2 separate regions of the Homo sapiens genome follow, and region 1 is linked to region 2. Evidence: fine-mapped expression QTL. A gene starts in region 2. The other region holds a variant in brackets. All regions are shown on one strand. Distances are between the middles of the regions.

Region 1 (4,349 bases), 200 kb before region 2:
TCCCAGATTAATGCATAAAGCCAAGGAACTACCCCGCTCCCTGCGCTATAGGGTCACTTTAAGCTCTGGGGAAAAAGGAGAAAGTGAGAGGAGAGTTCTCTGCATCCTCCCTCCTTGCTTGTCACCCAGTTGCCTTTAAACCAAATTCTAACCAGCCTATCCCCAGGTAGGGGGACGTTGGTTATATTCTGTTAGAGGGGGACGGTCGTATTTTCCTCCCTACCCGCCAAGTCATCCTTTCTACTGCTTTTGAGGCCCTCCCTCAGCTCTCTGTGGGTAGGGGTTACAATTCACATTCCTTATTCTGAGAATTTGGCCCCAGCTGTTTGCCTTTGACTCCCTGACCTCCAGAGCCAGGGTTGTGCCTTATTGTCCCATCTGTGGGCCTCATTCTGCCAAAGCTGGACCAAGGCTAACCTTTCTAAGCTCCCTAACTTGGGCCAGAAACCAAAGCTGAGCTTTTAACTTTCTCCCTCTATGACACAAATGAATTGAGGGTAGGAGGAGGGTGCACATAACCCTTACCCTACCTCTGCCAAAAAGTGGGGGCTGTACTGGGGACTGCTCGGATGATCTTTCTTAGTGCTACTTCTTTCAGCTGTCCCTGTAGCGACAGGTCTAAGATCTGACTGCCTCCTCCTTTCTCTGGCCTCTTCCCCCTTCCCTCTTCTCTTCAGCTAGGCTAGCTGGTTTGGAGTAGAATGGCAACTAATTCTAATTTTTATTTATTAAATATTTGGGGTTTTGGTTTTAAAGCCAGAATTACGGCTAGCACCTAGCATTTCAGCAGAGGGACCATTTTAGACCAAAATGTACTGTTAATGGGTTTTTTTTAAAAATTAAAAGATTAAATAAAAAATATTAAATAAAACATGGCAATAAGTGTCAGACTATTAGGAATTGAGAAGGGGGATCAACTAAATAAACGAAGAGAGTCTTTCTTATGCCTTCCTTGCAGTTATGTAATATTTTCTTTTTTAAATTTCACATGCATGTAATTTGAGCACTTTGAGGGGCCAAGGAGGGTGGATCACTAGAGGTCAGGAGTTTGAGACCAGCCTGGCCAACATGGCGAAACCCCATCTCTACTAAAAATACATCTAGCTGGGTGTGGTGGCGGGCGACTGTAATCTCAGCTACTTAGGAGGCTGAGGCAGGAGAATCACCTGAACCCGGGAGGCGGAGGCTGCAGTGAGTCGAGATTGCACCATTGCACTCCAGCCTGGGTGACAGAGCGAGAACTCCATCTAAAAAAATTCACATGCAAGAAGCAAAGGTAGACAAGGTAGAAGATGAATGACAGCAGCCCACAGGGGAGGATGGGGATAATACCTCACTGAAAGATCCAGAATTGGGAGTATCGGGCTGAGAGAGAGAAACAAAACCACAATCTTAGTTTTATCATATTGTTAAAAGACTTTCAAGAAATAATACAAACTGGAGATAGTAGATACACAGGCTCCATTCTAAGAACAAAGTCTGTTAGAAGCAGGAACACTTGGACAAATATGGGATGGGAGGGATGTCAGGCCGAGGTTAGAGTGGTGATCTCTCCCCACCCTTTAGGGCCTTTGGAGGTGGAGAAGGGATCCTGCCTGCTAGCACCACATTGGAAGGGATCATCTGGTCCAGAACCCCCATTTCTATCAACTAGGAGCTGGGGGGAGTAGCTAGCCCAGAGACTTCGGGTCAGGGTTCAACA[A/G]TCAGGAAGACCCAGTTCCTGAGGAAACGACAGTTCAAGAAGGGTTGGGAAGAAGGCTGTCCTCTAAAGAAGACGTCCTCTGCATTCAATGGCCCCACAGCAACAGAGTAGCTCCTTGCCTTCCACACTGCCCACCTCGTAGTTGTAGTCCCAAGTAAGTTCTGTCCCAGCCCGGATTCTTCTGAAGAGGAAGAAAAGGATGGTGTGTGGCAAAGACAGCAGATAACCCAGGCACTTGGGGTTACTGAATATGTAGGTGGAGTTGGATCATGAATGGAGGAGGGGCCCTTAGAACTTCAGTGGTCCTTGCCCCTCCCCAGTCATCCCCTTTCCTGACTCCTTACTTGCTGGCAAAGAAGGCCACCCAGGGGAAGCGAAGATCATGGGTATCCACGAAGACATTCTGGACAAACAGGTTGGGGCTGCAACTGTGCTGTAGGTTTAAGGACAGGATCAAATAAGAACCAGGGAAACTGAACCTGGCTTTGCAGGGAGAGTGAGAGTTGGAAGAAAAATGATGCCATCTGACCCTCCCCATTATAATAGATGCTTTGAAAGAAAGCTACCTCTTTAAGATCCTTTGAGATCAAGAGTTTATAACAAGAAAAGGGCTTATAGAGTATGTTAAAAGAAATCTGAGGACCATGGGATAATCCAGCATCTAGAGGTGGGGAGAGGGGTCTCACGTTGAGGTAGCGGCCCAGGTTGCCTTCAAGCTTGGCATCAATGATGTAGCAAGACTCCTCGCCATCATAGAATTGGCGTGTGTTCTTACGAACAGGTGCGCTCTCCCCCTTGTCCACAGAGGCCATGTTGGTTGATTTAATTGCAATCCCATGGGTTGATTTAAGAGCAAAGCCTCGGGTTGATTTTACTGCCACTTGACGCTTCATTGGACCTGGACAGGAGGGAGAATGGGGTCAGGACCCATCCCAACTCATGAACAGACATTCTATCATGAATGGACATTCTACCCCTATTTCTCTCCCAACATTGCAGCTGAGAAACACCAATAAGCTGGAACTCAAAGATCCTAAGTAGCAGGTTTTTTTTTCAAGCATAATTAGATCTGCTAGACAAAGGAGCTGAGGGGAAAGAGTAAAAAAATGGAAATGAGAGAGGATGTGTCAAACAATAGTTTAGCTTGGAGTCAGAAAGCCCTCCCAGAGATGCTCCAATTCTTAGGATCTGAATTTTTACCCACTACTTCTTTAGCTTCCTTAAAAAATGCTCTATCCCAAGTTTCTTACTATTTCTTCCCACCATTCCCAAAATTTTTCCAGGCTACCAGTCATGTTCTTCTTGTCCTCAAAGTCATCCCCTTCAGAGCCAGAGGATATGGTCTGGATATCATCACTGTCAACCGCTGTAGCCGAAGTCTGACCAGCAGTGGGCTTTCGGCTGGTCCCACTTTCCCCCTCACTTTCTGTGCTGCTGGACAGTGTCAGGACATCCTGGGGAAGCAGGAGGGTAAGAAGTAAGAGAAGTAAATGGGAAGGGCTCCTTTAAGTCCTTGCTGTTACCCACGGTTTGGCAGGAAAGGGCGGTGGCAAGAGGAAGATTAGATGCTGGATGAAAGAAAATAAGGCAGGAAGTCAAGGCTAAAGAAGTAGGAGAAGACCTAACAGTAATTATAGTGAAGGACTTGATGAGGTGACAATGGCCCATTTTCCTTTATTAGACTCTGAATAAGCTTGAGGTGACTTACATCAGGGTTGGACTGAGCAGAAGCCATGAGTCTTCGGCTTTGATGCATACTAGTCTTACTAGGTGGGCGGCGAAGTCCTTCAGGCTTCACAGGAGAAGGATTGTAACCGTAATTTCGAGAGCTTTCAGTAACTCTAATGGGAGGGGAAGGAATGAAGCCAACAGGTTACTGGCTGTTTCTTAGGCTTCTAGCCTAGGTTTGAGAGAAGGCAGATTTGGAGACAGGTCAAAAAGACAGGCACTGGGCTGGACACGGTAGCTCATGGCTGTAATCCCAGCACTTTGGGAGGCTGAGGATCCCCTTTGGGAGCATCGCTTGAGCCCAGGAGTTCAAGACCAGTCTGGGAAACATGGTGAAACCCCGTGTCTACAAAAAATACAAAAACTAGCCAGGCATGGTGGTGCACACCCGTAGTCCCAGCTACTAGGGAGGCTGAGGTGGGAGAATCTCTTGAGCCTGGGAGGGGGAGGTTGCAATGAGCTGAGATTACGCCACTGCACTCCAGCCTGGGTGACAAAGCAAGACTCTGTCTCAAAACAAAACAAAACAAAAGGCACTTACACTGACATCTTGTTTCGGTCGTCAGTGTCCTGGAAAAGAACAAGTGAAGGGTTAAATGCTTTCACAGCCTCGGGTAACAAGTCCAATAATCAGACTTCAAATGACCTCCACAGATAACATCAGCCAGTGACAGGTACACATTCTAAAGTGGGGTGGGTAAACCACTCTGCAACTTGACAGAAATCCTCACTACACTCCCTGGCTGGAGCCTTTAAGCCTTCTCAGTGATGGGGCTTAATGCTCATGGAAAACACCACGAGCAGGATTACATCAACCAGGGACAGTTTCACCATCTGTAATGTGGAAAGCAGCATAATCATCAAAGAGATACTTAAAATCAATTCTTGTTTCTCTACTTTAGTAGAAGGAAACAATGAT
Region 2 (4,394 bases):
ACAATGTTTAAAAAGAAGAACAAAGATAGGGTGGCCTAGATGACTTGCCTTACCATACGTGGAGACATATTACAAAGCTGTTTTAATTAAAACTGTGTGATACTGAAGTAGCAAAAGATAAAAAGAACAGCTTCATGAGCTCAGAAACTGACCTATCTATGTATGAGAATTTGGTGTACAATAGAGGTAGAATCAAAATTGGAAAACAAAGAAAATAAGCTCCCTACGTCATACCATACACAAAACTAAATTCCAGGTGAATTAAACACCTAAAAGCAGTAGCCATAGAAAAGATAAATAAAACACTCTCTGAAAGTATAAAAATAAGATGAGTGTATCTTTATTACATTTGGATGAGGAAAATTTTCTTATACAAAAACAGTATAGATTGATTATACGGAAAAGCTGAATAAAATGTTCTACCTCAACATAAAAAAATTTCATATAGAAAAACTCACTATAAACAAGACTAAAGGACAAGTGGAATTTCATAGGCTTATGCAAAGGAAGAAAAAATAAAATAAAAGACAAGTGGAAGACTAAGGGAGGATGTTTTTAAGGGTATATAACTGTCAAAGATTAGAAGCCAGAATATATTTTTAAAACACATACACCTTGGCCGGGCACGGTGGCTCACACCTGTAATCCCAGCACTTTGGGAGGCTGAGGCGGGTGGATCACGAGGTGAAGAGTTCAAGACCAGCCTGGCCAAGATGGTGAAACCCTGTCTCTACTAAAAATACAAAAATTAGCTGGACATGCTGGCAGGTGCCTGTAATCCCAGCTACTTGGGAGTCTGAGGCAGAGAATCGCTTGAACCTGGGAGGTGGATGTTGCAGTGAGCCAAGATCGCACCAATGCACTCCAGCATGGGAGACAAAGCACGACTCCGTCTCGGAAAACACACAACACACACACACACACACACCTCCCACAAATCACTAAGAAAATGCAACAATACAATAGAAAAATGAGCAAAAAAGATGAACAGGAAATTCACAGAAAATTCAAACGGTCAATAAATGTGTGAAAAGATCCTCAACCTCATTAGTAATTAGGAAAATGCAAATTTAAAAGATGATAGTTCGTCTTGCTCCCACCCCACCCAGGTAATCATTCTCAATTGGATATATTTGAGTGTATCCTTTTTTCCATGAATATACTAACACATACACACACACACACACACACACACGCATATTACTAAACTATACATATAGTATATATTAATAAAGACATTTTGAGTTTGATGAACGAAGGAATGGCTGAGTGAGAACCAGACAATATCAGATCATGAATGAGTTGTGTTAAAAGCAGTAAGACAGGTTTTCCTAGGAAATCATACAAGGAGCTGGGATTTGGGGAGCTTTATCTAAATCTCTTTATAACTAAATGTTTTCCATGTAAAAGTTGGTGTTTTTAAAATTCAATTTAATTTTTTTTTTGAGATAGGGTCTTGATATGTCATCCAGGCTGAAACACAGTGGCATAATCATGGCTCACTGCAGCCTTGTCCTCCTAGACTCAAGCAATTCTCCCACCTCACCCTCCCCCTCAGCTGGGACTACAAGCATGCACCACCATGCCCAGCTAATTAAAAAAAATTTTTTTGCAGAGACAGGGTCTCACTATATTGCCTAGGCTGGTCTTGAACTCCTGGCCTCAAGTGATCCTCCCGCCTCAGCCTCCCAAAGTGCTGGGATTATAGGCATGAGCCACTGGGCTCAGACAAGGGCTCTTCTTGATGGCTTACTGTATCCACTTTGTCCCCAAGACCATAGGGAAATGACTAGAGGTGACTGTACTAGCTAGATTTTAAATGAAACTGAAATGAAAGTTCACTTCCTCATTTTGAGTACCTCATGTGACAAGTTCCAATTTCTTTTCAAGTCAATTGAACTGAAATCTCCTTGTTGCTTTGAAATCTTAGAAGAGAGCCCACTAATTCAAGGACTCTTACTGTGGGAGCAACTGCTGGTTCTATCACGTATGTACTCTTTGTTCTTTTTCTCCCATTTGGTCTTCAAACACTCTGTGTTTGTAACTTGTTCTGCCTGCTAGGTTTTAAATCTTTGGTTTCAGGAAGTAAACTAAAAAATCGTGTCGTTCAATTTGCCTCTTCTCTATTTTTAAAAAGTTAATGTCTGCTTGAGCATCTAAGCATCTAAGTTGAGACTGAAACATGGCTTTCTTTGGAATATAATTTAAAGGCTTACATGTTTAAAATTCCAGATGTTTTCAATTAAAAAGAAATGGAAAAGAAAGTAGAATCCAGTTTGAGGGAGCTAGTCGCTGAATTTCTGTTGATGTCTCTTGAATTAAATACAGAAGTGGCATTTTAAAGAGTAGTTAATTGCCTCATTTGAAACAGATGTCTGATCATTAAAAAAAAAAAAACGTAAAAAGGAAAATTACCTACCTAAAGATGTGAAAGCAATAGATGAGAATTGTCTTTTAACTATCTGTAAAGACTGTGGATATTTAAACAGGTCAGTTAAGAAGAGCCCATGTATTCAAAAATTCAGGAGATAAACTGATTTTTCAGAGGTTTGTCTCTCTTAAGGATGATTTTTTTTTTTTTTTGAGAGAGAGAGAAAGAGATTTCCTTTGATTAGATTTGTTGGCAAATCCTGGAAAGTCCCTGTTTTCTAACCCTCTAGATGTGTTTGGTTTACCAGATATTGGGAAATTCCTGGAAATCACTTTTTAAAGTGCTACTAAGCATTGGAAGTAGTATTTCTGACATAAATCTGCAGCTGTTCCCTGTGACTATATATCCCAGGAATTTTCCTGTATAATTCTGTTTATAATAGTCTGTCCCTTTGATAGACTTTGCATTGTTATTTTCTCTTATGAAAACATGTGGTCACAACATATGCAGCTAATAGCAACACTTCCTATGTTACCTTTCCTTACACAGAATGAAACGGCTGGTTTGTGTGCTCTTGGTGTGCTCCTCTGCAGTGGCACAGTTGCATAAAGATCCTACCCTGGATCACCACTGGCATCTCTGGAAGAAAACCTATGGCAAACAATACAAGGAAAAGGTAGATTGGATTGCCACTCGAGCGATATGCTTTTAAAGGAGTACTGTTTTCTACCTCTTAAAATTGTGTTCTTACAGGCAGTGTTTTCAGTAAATATTTAAGCTGGGTGTGGTGGCTCGCGCCTGTAATCCTAGCCCTTTGGAAGGCCAAGGTGAGCGGATCACCTGAGGTCAGGAGTTCGAGACCAGCCTAGCCAACATGGCGAAACCCCATCTCTACTAAAAATACAAAAATTAGCTGGATGTGGTGGTGGGCGCCTGTAATCCCAGCTACTCGGGAGGCTGAGGCAAGAGAATCACTTGAGCCGGGAAGGCGGAGGTTGCAGTGAGCCAAGATTGTGCCATTGCATTCCAGCCTGGGTGACAGAGTGAGACTCCATCTCAAAAATAAATAAATAAATATTATGTACTTGTTTCTTGCCAGATACTGTTCTTGGTACCATACAGCAGGAATCAAAACAAAATTCCTGTTATGGAGCTTATATTATAGTGAGAGAGACAGGAAATAAGAAAATAAACAAGCAGATATGTAGTATGCTAGATGGTGATAAGTGTTGTAGATAAAAATAACAGAAGGCATGGAGAGTAGGAAGGGCCCTGGGTGGTGGTGGTGGTAAGAAGTCTATCTATATGACAGGAGGGTTAGGGAAGGCCTCACGGATAAGGGTGCCATTTGAGCAGAGAATTGATGGAAGCCAGGGAGCAAGCAAAATACATAATAGAGTGAAGGTCTCAGGCCAAGGGCAAATCAGCACAAGCTCCTGAGGAAGGGCCACATTTGGGATGGCTGAGGAGCGAAAAGGCGTTAATACCCACATAGTGTGGCCAGATATTGTTTCTTGACTATCACTTCCCATTTTGTACTTTTGTTTTTATTTCAAAGCACACTTGCTGATGTTAAGACCTTAACCCTACTGCTTTAAATAACTAAGTCCTGTAACTATGTAATATTTCTGTTTGTAAGCTAGCATCATATATTTATTTATTTGACATATTATTTTGTATAAAAATGACACTCTTAGGTCATACACTCTAAGTTTTATTTTTATTTATTTATAATTAAATAATAATTGTGTCTATTTATGGAGTACAATGTGATGTTATGATACAAATATACATTGCAGAATGATTAAATTAGGCTAATTAACCTATTCAGCACCTCACATACTTATCCTTTCATTGTGATAAGAACATTTAAAATCTACCCTTTCAGTAATTTTGACATATAAAATACATTATTATTATTATCTGTAGTCACCATGCTATGCAATAGATTGCTAGAATGTAGTCTTCTTGTCAAATGAAACTCTGTACTCTTTGCCTAACATCTCCCCTTTCCCTGTCTACC

What was found. PIP is the estimated chance that this variant, and not a neighbour inherited with it, causes the effect.
Region 1: its variant is the best candidate, but not a certain one, in a credible set for the expression of CTSS in whole blood (TOPMed, PIP 0.56).

Annotation. Positions count from the first base shown.
Region 1 is chr1:150,961,781-150,966,129 of GRCh38, reverse strand. It overlaps SETDB1 (SET domain bifurcated histone lysine methyltransferase 1), which reads right to left. Exons shown (of 22, transcript NM_001366418.1): 17 at 3,972-4,000; 18 at 3,411-3,543; 19 at 2,991-3,156; 20 at 2,389-2,600; 21 at 2,047-2,135; 22 at 1,393-1,883. The coding sequence ends at 1,766. CERS2 (ceramide synthase 2) reads left to right here. Exons shown (of 11, transcript NM_022075.5): 11 at 1-944. Among named protein-coding and RNA genes, the nearest start is that of CERS2, 11 kb to the left of the region's middle. RefSeq lists cis regulatory regions at 641, 1,277 and enhancers at 568-712, 1,205-1,349. The variant A/G (reference allele first, on the strand shown) is at 1,703.
Region 2 is chr1:150,763,291-150,767,684 of GRCh38, reverse strand. It overlaps CTSS (cathepsin S), which reads left to right and starts at 1,907. Exons shown (of 8, transcript NM_004079.5): 1 at 1,907-1,987; 2 at 2,921-3,047. The coding sequence starts at 2,922. RefSeq lists cis regulatory regions at 1,961, 1,964 and enhancers at 1,889-2,033, 1,892-2,036, 2,967-3,016, 3,728-3,817.